Linked DNA regions of Homo sapiens. The protein of the gene in region 1 purifies or fractionates together with the protein of each later gene. This does not show direct contact. Each region holds a gene or a part of one and is shown on either strand. Other genes may lie near its edges.

The links.
Region 2: the proteins of PTPDC1 (region 1) and PPP2R1B purify together in Homo sapiens (affinity purification with mass spectrometry; 4 studies listed by BioGRID and IntAct, with this or other methods). This does not show direct contact.
Region 3: the proteins of PTPDC1 (region 1) and PPP2R2D purify together in Homo sapiens (affinity purification with mass spectrometry; 6 studies listed by BioGRID and IntAct, with this or other methods). This does not show direct contact.

The regions. Positions count from the first base shown.
Region 1 is NC_000009.12:94,087,358-94,091,108, forward strand, and holds part of PTPDC1 (protein tyrosine phosphatase domain-containing protein 1), read left to right. Parts: intron 1-473; coding exon 474-554; intron 555-787; coding exon 788-906; intron 907-3,751. UniProt on the Homo sapiens protein: May play roles in cilia formation and/or maintenance.
Region 2 is NC_000011.10:111,759,649-111,763,399, reverse strand, and holds part of PPP2R1B (serine/threonine-protein phosphatase 2A 65 kDa regulatory subunit A beta isoform), read left to right. Parts: intron 1-2,348; coding exon 2,349-2,581; intron 2,582-3,448; coding exon 3,449-3,596; intron 3,597-3,751. UniProt on the Homo sapiens protein: The PR65 subunit of protein phosphatase 2A serves as a scaffolding molecule to coordinate the assembly of the catalytic subunit and a variable regulatory B subunit.
Region 3 is NC_000010.11:131,903,930-131,907,680, forward strand, and holds part of PPP2R2D (serine/threonine-protein phosphatase 2A 55 kDa regulatory subunit B delta isoform), read left to right. Parts: intron 1-3,751. UniProt on the Homo sapiens protein: Substrate-recognition subunit of protein phosphatase 2A (PP2A) that plays a key role in cell cycle by controlling mitosis entry and exit. Involved in chromosome clustering during late mitosis by mediating dephosphorylation of MKI67.

The DNA.
Region 1 (3,751 bases):
TCATCTATGTAACCTGAAATAATCTGTACCCCAAAAACTATTGAAATTTTAAAAATTAACCTAAAGAGAAAAAAAGCAAAGTATCTAACAGTGCCTTTACTAGACTACCTTTTGTACAAGAAAAAGCAGATAAATAAGAATAAATATTCATATTTGCTTATATTTGCAAAAATAAACACTAAGATGGTAAACATGAAGTTAATACAAATGATTACATATGGGGAACAAACTGAATGGAGTGGATGAAAACGGTTGAGAGCAAACATTTTAGTGCATACCTTTTTGTATTGTTTTGATTTTATTGAACCATGAAACTGTATTATCTGTTCAAATAAAATTTATACACAAAAAAGAATATTCTAACAGAGTTGTTGAAATCATAGAAAAAATCATCTCTCAGGACTGGAACATCTCTTTGGACTGGAACTTCCTAGGTTTCAGCACATCTCACCAGTCCCTCCACCTATTTGCAGGGTCACTGATAATATACTGGCCATGGCCCGCCCATCCTCTGAGCTCCTGGAGAAGTACCACATCATTGATCAGTTCCTCAGGTAAATGCTGTATTGTTCACACACGAGTGAGCAAACTCATGTGTTTTTTTCTTTCATTGCCTTTGTTTCAAGTGAAAGAGTGCTTTCATTTTAACAATAGGCAGTGAAGAGTGTATTTCAAATGAGAAATTAAGATTTTTGAGAGTAATTAATAATGTTGATTAATACCAAAAATGGTTAATTTTTTTTAAATGCTAGCTCCCAATATGACTGACTGCCCTTTTTCCTTTAAGCCATGGCATAAAAACAATAATCAACCTCCAGCGCCCTGGTGAGCATGCTAGCTGTGGGAACCCTCTGGAACAAGAAAGTGGCTTCACATACCTTCCTGAGGCTTTCATGGAGGCTGGCAGTAAGTTCCTCCCACCCTCCTCTCATGAATTATCAAGGGCAGCACTCAGAGGCTTTTCTCTGCTGGGTTCTTAGATTAAAAAGATGATGGAAATAAATACCTTCTGCATCATAGTAAGGTTTAGAAAAAATGAGCTACCATTCTCTTTGGTATTGCTGTTGAAAGTAAAGGATTTCTTTGTTCCTGTAAGAGGGATGTTGGGAGGAGACCCTGTAGTAATAATGATTAACATTTAGTTAATGCTTACAGTGTGCCAGTCACTATTATCTCATTTAACCCTTAAAGCAGTTGTGTAACAAAATTATTATTTCTGTTTTACATATGAAGCCACACGGGGCTTAGAGAATTACCTGTTTGCCTAAGATCACACAGCTTAGAAATGGTAGTCAGGTTTGGAACCTGGACATGCTCCAGGTTTACTGCTGTCCAGCCCTGCTCCCAAAATGATGCCCAGGAATTCTACTTCTAACAATTTCAAAGCCGCCTCAATCACAGGAGCTTTGGGATGAAATACACTCAACATGTGTCCTTCAAACCAGGCTGGAAAGGATAAACAATCTTGGAACTTGTTTTTAAGAAGCTTATTTACACTAGATAGAAAATCCATATATACTGTCTTAAGCTATTTATCAGTCATTTAGACACATTTCCCTGCTTAAACAAGAATGTATGCTTTCTCTCCAAAGCTGAGTAACTATAGCATGAATCATTGACTTTATTAATTTGTAATTATACTTCGCCATAATTCTTTCTGGCTGAGTTTCTGCAGGAAATGTCTTTTTTTTTTCATATTTACATTTTTATTTTATTTTTTTTTAATTTTTTTTTATTATACTTTAAGTTTTAGGGTACATGTGCACATTGTGCAGGTTAGTTACATATGTATACATGTGCCATGCTGGTGCACTGCACCCACTAACTCGTCATCTAGCATTAGGTATATCTCCCAATGCTATCCCTCCCCCCTCCCCCCACCCCACAACAGTCCCCAGAGTGTGATATTCCCCTTCCTGTGTCCATGTAATCTCATTGTTCAATTCCCACCTATGAGTGAGAATATGCGGTGTTTGCTTTTTGTTCTTGCGATAGTTTACTGAGAATGATGATTTCCAATTTCATCCATGTCCCTACAAAGGACATGAACTCATCATTTTTTATGGCTGCATAGTATTCCATGGTGTATATGTGCCACATTTTCTTAATCCAGTCTATCATTGTTGGACATTTGGGTTGGTTCCAAGTCTTTGCTATTGTGAATAGTGCCGCAATAAACATACGTGTGCATGTGTCTTTATAGCAGCATGATTTATAGTCCTTTGGGTATATACCCAGTAATGGGATGGCTGGGTCAAATGGTATTTCCAGTTCTAGATCCCTGAGGAATTGCCACACTGACTTCCACAATGGTTGAACTAGTTTACAGTCCCACCAACAGTGTAAAAGTGTTCCTATTTCTCCACATCCTCTCCAGCACCTGTTGTTTCCTGACTTTTTAATGATTGCCATTCTAACTGGTGTGAGATGGTATCTCATTGTGGTTTTGATTTGCATTTCTCTGATGGCCAGTGATGATGAGCATTTTTTCATGTGTTTTTTGGCTGCATAAATGTCTTCTTTTGAGAAGTGTCTGTTCATGTCCTTTGCCCACTTTTTGATGGGGTTGTTTGTTTTTTTCTTGTAAATTTGTTTGAGTTCATTGTAGATTCTGGATATTAGCCCTTTGTCAGATGAGTAGGTTGCAAAAATTTTCTCCCATTTTGTAGGTTGCCTGTTCATTCTGATGGTAGTTTCTTTTGCTGTGCAGAAGCTCTTTAGTTTAATTAGATCCCATTTGTCAATTTTGTCTTTTGTTGCCATTGCTTTTGGTGTTTTAGACATGAAGTCCTTGCCCATGCCTATGTCCTGAATGGTAATGCCTAGGTTTTCTTCTAGGGTTTTTATGGTTTTAGGTCTAACGTTTAAGTCTTTAATCCATCTTGAATTGATTTTTGTATAAGGTGTAAGGAAGGGATCCAGTTTCAGCTTTCTACGTATGGCTAGCCAGTTTTCCCACCACCATTTATTAAATAGGGAATCCTTTCCCCATTGCTTGTTTTTGTCAGGTTTGTCAAAGATCAGATAGCTGTAGATATGTGGCGTTATTTCTGAGGGCTCTGGTCTGTTCCATTGATCTATATCTCTGTTTTGGTACCAGTACCATGCTGTTTTGGTTACTGTAGCCTTGTAGTATAGTTTGAAGTCAGGTAGTGTGATGCCTCCAGCTTTGTTCTTTTGGCTTAGGATTGACTTGGTGATGCGGGCTCTTTTTTGGTTCCATATGAACTTTAAAGTAGTTTTTTCCAATTCTGTGAAGAAAGTCATTGGTAGCTTGATGGGGATGGCATTGAATCTGTAAATTACCTTGGGCAGTATGGCCATTTTCACGATATTGATTCTTCCTACCCATGAGCATGGAATGTTCTTCCATTTGTTTGTGTCCTCTTTTATTTCCTTGAGCAGTGGTTTGTAGTTCTCCTTGAAGAGGTCCTTCACATCCCTTGTAAGTTGGATTCCTAGGTATTTTATTCTCTTTGAAGCAATTGTGAATGGGAGTTCACTCATGATTTGGCTCTCTGTTTGTCTGTTGTTGGTGTATAAGAATGCTTGTGATTTTTGTACATTGATTTTGTATCCTGAGACTTTGCTGAAGTTGCCTGTCAGCTTAAGGAGATTTTGGGCTTGAGACAATGGGGTTTTCTAGATATACAATCATGTCGTCTGCAAACAGGGACAATTTGACTTCCTCTTTTCCCAATTGAATACCCTTTATTTCCTTCTCCTGCCTAATTGCCCAGGCCAGAACTTC
Region 2 (3,751 bases), on another chromosome or scaffold:
CTTAGCTTACAAGGCTTTTTATGACCCGCCTCTGTAGGATTATCATATGCCCAGTGGTACTGCATGAGAAGAGGTGACAGTAGGCAGGGAACAGACTGCAAAAGGCCTTGATAACCTCTTCCATTCACATTGGTCATCTTTCTGTTTTTTGAACTAACCAAGCTCATTATTCCCTTAGGACCTTTGCCCTAGGTCTTCCCTCTAATGAAAAGCTCTTTCAAGCTTTCTGTGGCTGGCTCCTTGTCATTCAGGGATCAACTTCAATGCATCTCCTCAGGGAGGTTTTCCCCAACCACTCAACTTAAAATAGCCTCACAGTCATCCCTTACTACATCATCCTACTCCTTTTTTCTATAGAGTACTCATCACCATCTACTTATTTTCTTGATTGATTGTTGTCTTACTCCATTAGAATGTAAATGCCACTAGAGTGAGGAACCTTGTCTGCCTTGTTTCTTCTGTGTCCTCAATGCTAGAATATACCAATAATAATGTATTGAAAAAATGAGTTTCAGAGGCTTGGAAGCATGAAACAGGCTGGGTTCAAAACTGCCGGAGTGTGGCTGGGTGTGGTGGCTCACACCTGTAATCCTTGCCTTGGGAGGCCAAAGCAGCAGGAGGATTGCTTGAGGCCAGGAGTTCAAGATCAGCCTGGGCAACATAGTGAGACCCCAACACTTAAAAAAAAATAGCTGGGCATGATGTCATGTGTCTGAGTCCTAGCTATTCGGGACGCTGAGGCAGAAGGACGAGGAGTCTGAGGCCGCACTGAGCCATGATTGTGCCACTGCACTTCAGCCTGGGCAACAGAGCAAGACCCTGTCTCTTAAAAAAAAAAAAAAAAAAGAACTGCTGGAGTGTGAAGTGTTGAGGCTGGGTAGGCAGAGTGGTCATCAAGGGCCAGGCAGAGTTCAAATCAAGAGACCACTCATAAGCAATTCTCAGGAGCATGGCCTCATCCTGTAGTAATGATAGCTATTATCCAGTGGTACTGCACGAGAGGGGGTTACAGTAGGCAGGGGACAGATCATGAAATGCATTGGCAAGTGAGAAACAGTATCTTTTCAATGAGTTTCTGAAATACCTTCTAGGAAAGCTGAATACTGTCTACCTGTGTGTATCAAACAATTTTTAAAATATATTATTAGACACACTTCTTTTCTTTAACTCATTATGCTTCTGTTTCACTCTTGGTTAGTTCTATATGTGGGTTTTATGCTTTAAAATCTGTAGCTCATGGCATGTGTAGAATCTACCTGGACTACATGCAAACTCAGTAAGGCAGAGGTTCAGAGAGCCAGCCTGTTTACACTTTTTACTAGGCCATGCCATATTCAGTTACTGCTCTTAATCCAGACCATCCACCCCATTTGGCTTCTTTTATTTCTAAAGCTGTAAGCAAGGTGTCCTACCATCTCTGTACTTTACCTTTTTTTTTTGAGACAAGAGCCTCACTCTGTCACCCAGGCTCAAGTACAGTGGCACAATCTCGGCTCACTGCAACCTCTGCCTCCCGGGTTCAAGTGATTCTCATGCCTCAGCCTCCTGAGTAAGCTGGGTTTACAGGCGTGTGCCACCATGTCTGGCTAATTTTTGTATTTTTTGTAGAGACAGGGTTCCACCATGTTGGCCAGGCTGGTCTCGAGCTCCTGACCTCAAGTGATCTGCCCACCTCGGCCTCCCGACGGCTGGGATTACAGGTGTGAGCCACCGTGCCTGGCCAGTCTCTGTAGTTTTCACTTGATTGTTCTGTCAGAAACTCCTTTCTGCCCTATGGCTAATGGAAAGTTGCTGAATGTGTTCTGAAAAAAGCAATTTTGCATTCAGCATTTTATAGGTTGGATAAAAGGATGGGATGGAGATGGTGGATAAGGGTTGCTTGCACCTCTGGGAATGGTGGAAAGATACTGAAAAGGCTGTGGACTCAGTGACCTGACAAGCTGTTATCCTGTATTTGTGGTGCCTAACATTGGTCATAGTTTTGTACTTACTCTTGAGGAAATATACATGATCCTGTCTGAATTTGGCTATGTATCTTTTAAACCTAGTGATTCAACTCACAGTAATATTAATATTGTGTCAAGTCTTTTACACTGTGTCATTTGTAGACACCATCTGGGAATTGCCATCTGGGACACGAGATCTTGGCTTTTCTACAGAAGTCGTGTCTTTGGGTTGGCCGCACCATATGTTATCACTGTGTGAGCTGAAAGTAACCATTTGGTATGATGCAGCTAACATTCTGGTTACGTGTACCACCTCCCTTCAGTCACTTTAAAAGGTGATTATCTGTTTCTAACCTGATTCAATAAGTTTTCTTCTCTGGTTTTCCTTTTTAATCCATTCAGCCTCCTTTGGAAAATCTGGCAACTGTGGAAGAGACTGTTGTTCGTGACAAGGCTGTGGAGTCCCTGAGACAGATCTCCCAGGAGCATACTCCTGTTGCTCTGGAAGCTTATTTTGTACCTCTGGTGAAACGCTTAGCAAGTGGGGATTGGTTCACCTCTCGCACATCTGCATGTGGTTTGTTCAGCGTTTGCTATCCCAGGGCATCAAATGCTGTTAAAGCAGAAATCAGACAGTAAGCCATGGTATTTTTTTGCCTTGTTAAAGCAGAAATCAGGTAGTAAGCTATGAGTTATTTGGGATTACTGGGGACTTGTAGCTGACAATTTACATAGTACCTTGTTACCAATGAGTGGCTGATACTAGGATAGTAGGATTTATGACATCTTTCTTTTTTTTTTTTAAGAGATAAGGTCTTGCTCTGTTGTCTAGGCTGGAGTGCGGTGGCACAATCATAGCTCACTGCAACCTTGAACTCTTGTGCTTAAGTGATCCTCCAGCCTCAGCCTCCAAGTAGCTAGGACTACCGACATACACTACTGCGCCTGGCTAATTTTTAAAAAAAATTTCTGGCTGGATGCAGTGGCTCATGCTTGTAATCCCAGCACTTTGAGAGGCTGAGGTGGGAGGATTGCTTGAACTCAGGAGTTCAAGACCAGCTTGAGCAACATAGTGAGACCTTGTCTCTACTAAAAAGAAAAAAATTAGCTGGGCATGGTGGGACCCGCCTGTATTTCTAGCTACTCAGAAGGCTGAGGTGGGAGTTCACTTGAGCCCCCGACAAACAACAACAAAAATATTTTTGGCATATAGATAGGGTCTTGCTATGTTGCCCAGTCTGCTTTCAATTCCTGGCCTCAAGCAGTCCTCCTACCTGGGCCTCCCAAAGTGCTTTGATTACAGGTGTGAGGCACCATGCCTGGCCTATGATGTCATTTTTTATTATCCAGTTGAATATGTTTTATTTTTGTTACTTCTATAAGTAGAAGCTTAGTCACTGATTATTGTAAGATAAAACCTCTAAAAGTCTGTCTGTGTGTATGGGGGGCAGGTTTATTCAGTGTTATTTGATGGGAAATACCTTCATTGTTTTATGTTGCAGGCAATTCCGTTCCTTGTGCTCAGATGACACACCAATGGTACGACGTGCTGCTGCTTCCAAATTGGGTGAATTTGCAAAAGTTTTGGAATTAGACAGTGTGAAAAGTGAAATTGTTCCACTGTTCACTAGTCTAGCTTCAGATGAACAGGTAAACTAACTCTTAGTATTTAAGGGACACAGATATGCTCCTTTCCTCTAAATTTTCAGAATTTCTTTGGGGAGTTTTAGTTTTCTTGTTAGGATTCTTTTTACAGAATTAGTGCTGATTCTGGCCTGGTTAAAGTGTAACATGCTTATCTCAAT
Region 3 (3,751 bases), on another chromosome or scaffold:
ACGGTGACTCACACCTGTAACCCCAGCACTCTGGGAGGCTGAGGCGGGTGGATCACTTGAGGTCAGGAGTTTGAGACTAGCCTGGCCAATATGGCGAAACCCCATCTCTACTAAAAATACAAAAATTAGCCAGGCGTGGCAGGGCCGGCCTGTAATTCCAGCTCCTCAGGAGACTGAGACAGGAGGATTGCTTAAACCTGGGAGGTGGAGGTTGCAGTGAGGCGAGATGGTGCCATTGCACTCCAGCCTGGGCGTCAGAGCGAGACTCCGTCTCAAAAAAAAAAAAAAAAGGAGAGAGATGGCCGGGCGCAGTGGCTCACGCTTGTAATCCCAGCACTTTGGGAGGCCGAGGCAGGCAGATCACAAGGTCAGGAGATCGAGACCATCCTGGCTAACACGGTGAAACCCCGTCTCTACTAAAAATACAAAAATTAGCCGGGTGTGATGGCGGGCGCCTGCAGTCCCAGCTACTTGGGAGGCTGAGGCAGGAGAATGGCATGAACCCGGGAGGCAGAGCTTGCAGTGAGCCGAGATCGTGCCACTGCACTCCAGCCTGGGCGACAGAGCAAGACTTTGTCTCAAAAAAAAAAAGAGAGATGGGCAGTTCACAGGGGTTTTTATCGTGCACTGCTGCTCAGGCTGTAGAACTTAAGGTATAGCAGATTTTGTTTGTTTAGATTTGTGGCTTGTGAGGCATTTTGTTCTTGAAGGTTTTGTTCTGGGCCAAGTTCAGCTCTGTAGAGCTTTACTACAGCCCTGCACTCTGGCCGTCTTTCTGCCCTCTCTGCAATGGGTAAGGAGAAGGAGCCTTAGAGATTAAGGCCTGGGTCCTCTCCTGACTTCAGTGGGGTGATGCCCAGTGCACAGGAAGTGGTGCAGGGCTAGGAGTAGGCACTCCTGACTTTGGAGGTCATGAAGTGAGTGACATAGAAAAGCCTTTGGTTTTTGTTTTGATTTCTGTTTTGTTTTTAAAACTAATAGTTTTGGGCTGGGGAATCAGAATCAACCTATGGTGAAAGTGCTGGCCTATGTAAAATTTGATGCGCACCCCACCCCCCTTTTTTTTTTAAAAGAATTGGGTTTAGCTATGGGTCAGGTCATTTTGCTAAGAGTTGTGATTCCACTGGGTCATCAGACTTCCCATCCCCCTGCAGGTAGGAGTAGAGCTGAGCTCACAAGGAAGTTATTAAGTGTCCTGCTGATGAGCAGGTGTATAAGCAGCAGTCAGTGGTGACTTGCATCTCCTCCCTTTGCTGGAAGGTGGGACTAGGTGAGTTTATATGCTGAGTTGACCAAGAGTTAAAATAGTAAAACCAGGGGGCTTCCAGCAGGAAGCAAGTAGAAAAGTTGTTTGTTAGCTTCTAATTCCACGATGTTGCGGTTCTAAACGGTGGCTCCTTTCTGGAAATTGTTAACTGTTGTGCAGATTTTTTCTGCATGTTATGGAATCACCTTCACCCAGCCCCTGCTCCCTCTCCTGGAACGTACTTCATTCAGCATGTGATGTGTTTTGCAATGTCACATGGTATTTCATCCTTTGCTTCTCTCTCTGGTAGACTGAGCTCCTCAAGCTTGAAGGCTGGCTGTCCCCCTTCCCACCCCAGCCCTTGTAGAGGACCCAGCACGAAGGTCATGATAGGTAACAGTTGCTGAGTGGTCATTCTGTGCTAGAGATTGCTCGCAGTGCTTTTCCTATGTCAGTGAATCTTCACACCACCGAAGAAGGAAGGAAATACTGTTCTTCCCAGTCTCAGATGCAGAATCCGAGGCGTGGGAGCAATTAACCTGGGTCACAAAGCGAGTGTATGGCAGGGCCAGGGTTTGGAGCCACGCCGACTGGCCGCAGAGCCGTGGAGCGCTGTACTGCTTCAGCGACCATTTGCAGCCAGCACAGTACTGATGAAGCCCCACTGTGGCATGCGGCCGTCCAGCCTTGGGATGGAGCTGTTCTTCTAAAGCTCGGTGAAAATCTTACTACCAAGAGGCGTGTGAAAATGCTTTTGAAGGCAAATGAAAATGGAATGCCTTTAAAGGAAGTCTGTGTCAAAATGATAGAAGATTAGTAACAAGGATTCAAGAATAGCATCACTTTCCAACCAATTCTCAAACTATTTGAAGAGTAGATACCACAGAGACAGTAAGTAAGTGAAACACCTGCACGTCAAGCAAGTGCTGCAGCACCTTTGCCTGTGATGTCACTTTCCACATGACTGCAACCTGCTTACCTGCAGGGAAGCTATGGGTCTTGCTCCTTTATATATTACACTAATTGCTCCTATGGAGAAACCGTGGGGAGGGGTTGGGGGAGGAGGGTCTTATATTGAACCTGGTTTTATATAGCTTTATAGCTTGATAACAGCTGGTTCCTTTCTTCTCAGAATTTGTAGTTTTAAGTGTATTGGGGTTTTATTTGTTGATTTTGCTTTAATCAGTTTCTTAATCCATGATCTGTTGCTTTGAATTAGACATTAACCTGTTTCTAAAGAGATAGACTAAACAAAACTAAAGGTTTGTTTGCTTAAGTCAAGCTTGAGTCTGGGGAGTTATGTAAGTAACATAGATATCTGGTTAATCTGGTAGGATAGCCTTTCCAAGGGAGTTTACATTGGTACTTTGAAAGAAACATTTTAAGTCGCAGAAAGGTAACAAAAATTAAGTTAACTGTAGCATCAGCACCAGAAAGTTACTGTTTCATTGAATGTAAGATAATGTCTGGCTCGGTGGCTCACGCCTGTAGTCTCAGCACTTCAGGAGGCCAAGATGGCAGGATCCCTTGAGCCCAGCAATTTGAGACCAGCCTGGGCAACATAGTGAGATCTTGTCTCTACCAAAAAAAAAAAAAAAAGAAAGAAATTCGGGACGTTTGCCAGGTATGGTAGTACACACCTGTAGTCCCAGCTACTCAGGAGGCTGAGGTGGGGGCATCGCTTGAGCCAGGGAGGTTGAGGCTGCAATGAGCTATGATTGCACCACTGCACTCCAGCCTGGGCAATAGAGTGAGACCTTGTCTCAGAAAAAAGAAAAAATAATAATAATTATATATGTATATATATAATCTTTGAAATTAGGTGTGTCTTTTATATATAATCTCCTATAATGTCTTTTATATGTATATATAAAATCTACATCTAATTTCAGAGATACTAAGATGTGGGGAAATGTACTTAGAATCAATGAAATACGGTGTTGGTGAATGCAAAACTTGTCAGTCATATTTATTGATTTCTTCTGTGTACAGATAATGGGCATTTGGTATTTATTCATTTATATTTTTTTTTTGGTCTTAATGGGACATGGTGTCTGCTTATTTGAATTATTTCCGGTCTGATTTCTATATTCCATTGTAGAATTTTCATTTACTTAATATTTATATCTGTGCCATTGAAGAGAACCTTCAGGAAAGCATCCTCTGGGGAAGGCCATCAAACAAGCAAACAGTCTAGTAATATTTTGCAGTTTGACTTATGAGAGCTTCATAGGAAGCCTCTGCCTTTAGGAAGTCAGTTGTATGCCTTAAGATTCACAGACTCGCCGGGCGCAGTGGTTCACGCCTGTAATCCCAGCACTTTGGGAGGCCGAGGCGGGCGGATCACGAGGTCAGGAGATCGAGACCATCCTGGCTAACAGGGTGAAACCCCGTCTCTACTAAAAAAAATACAAAAAATCAGCTGGGTGTGGTCGCGGGCACCTGTAGTCCCAGCTACTGGGGAGGCTGAGGCAGGAGAATGGCATGAACCCAGGAGGCGGAGCT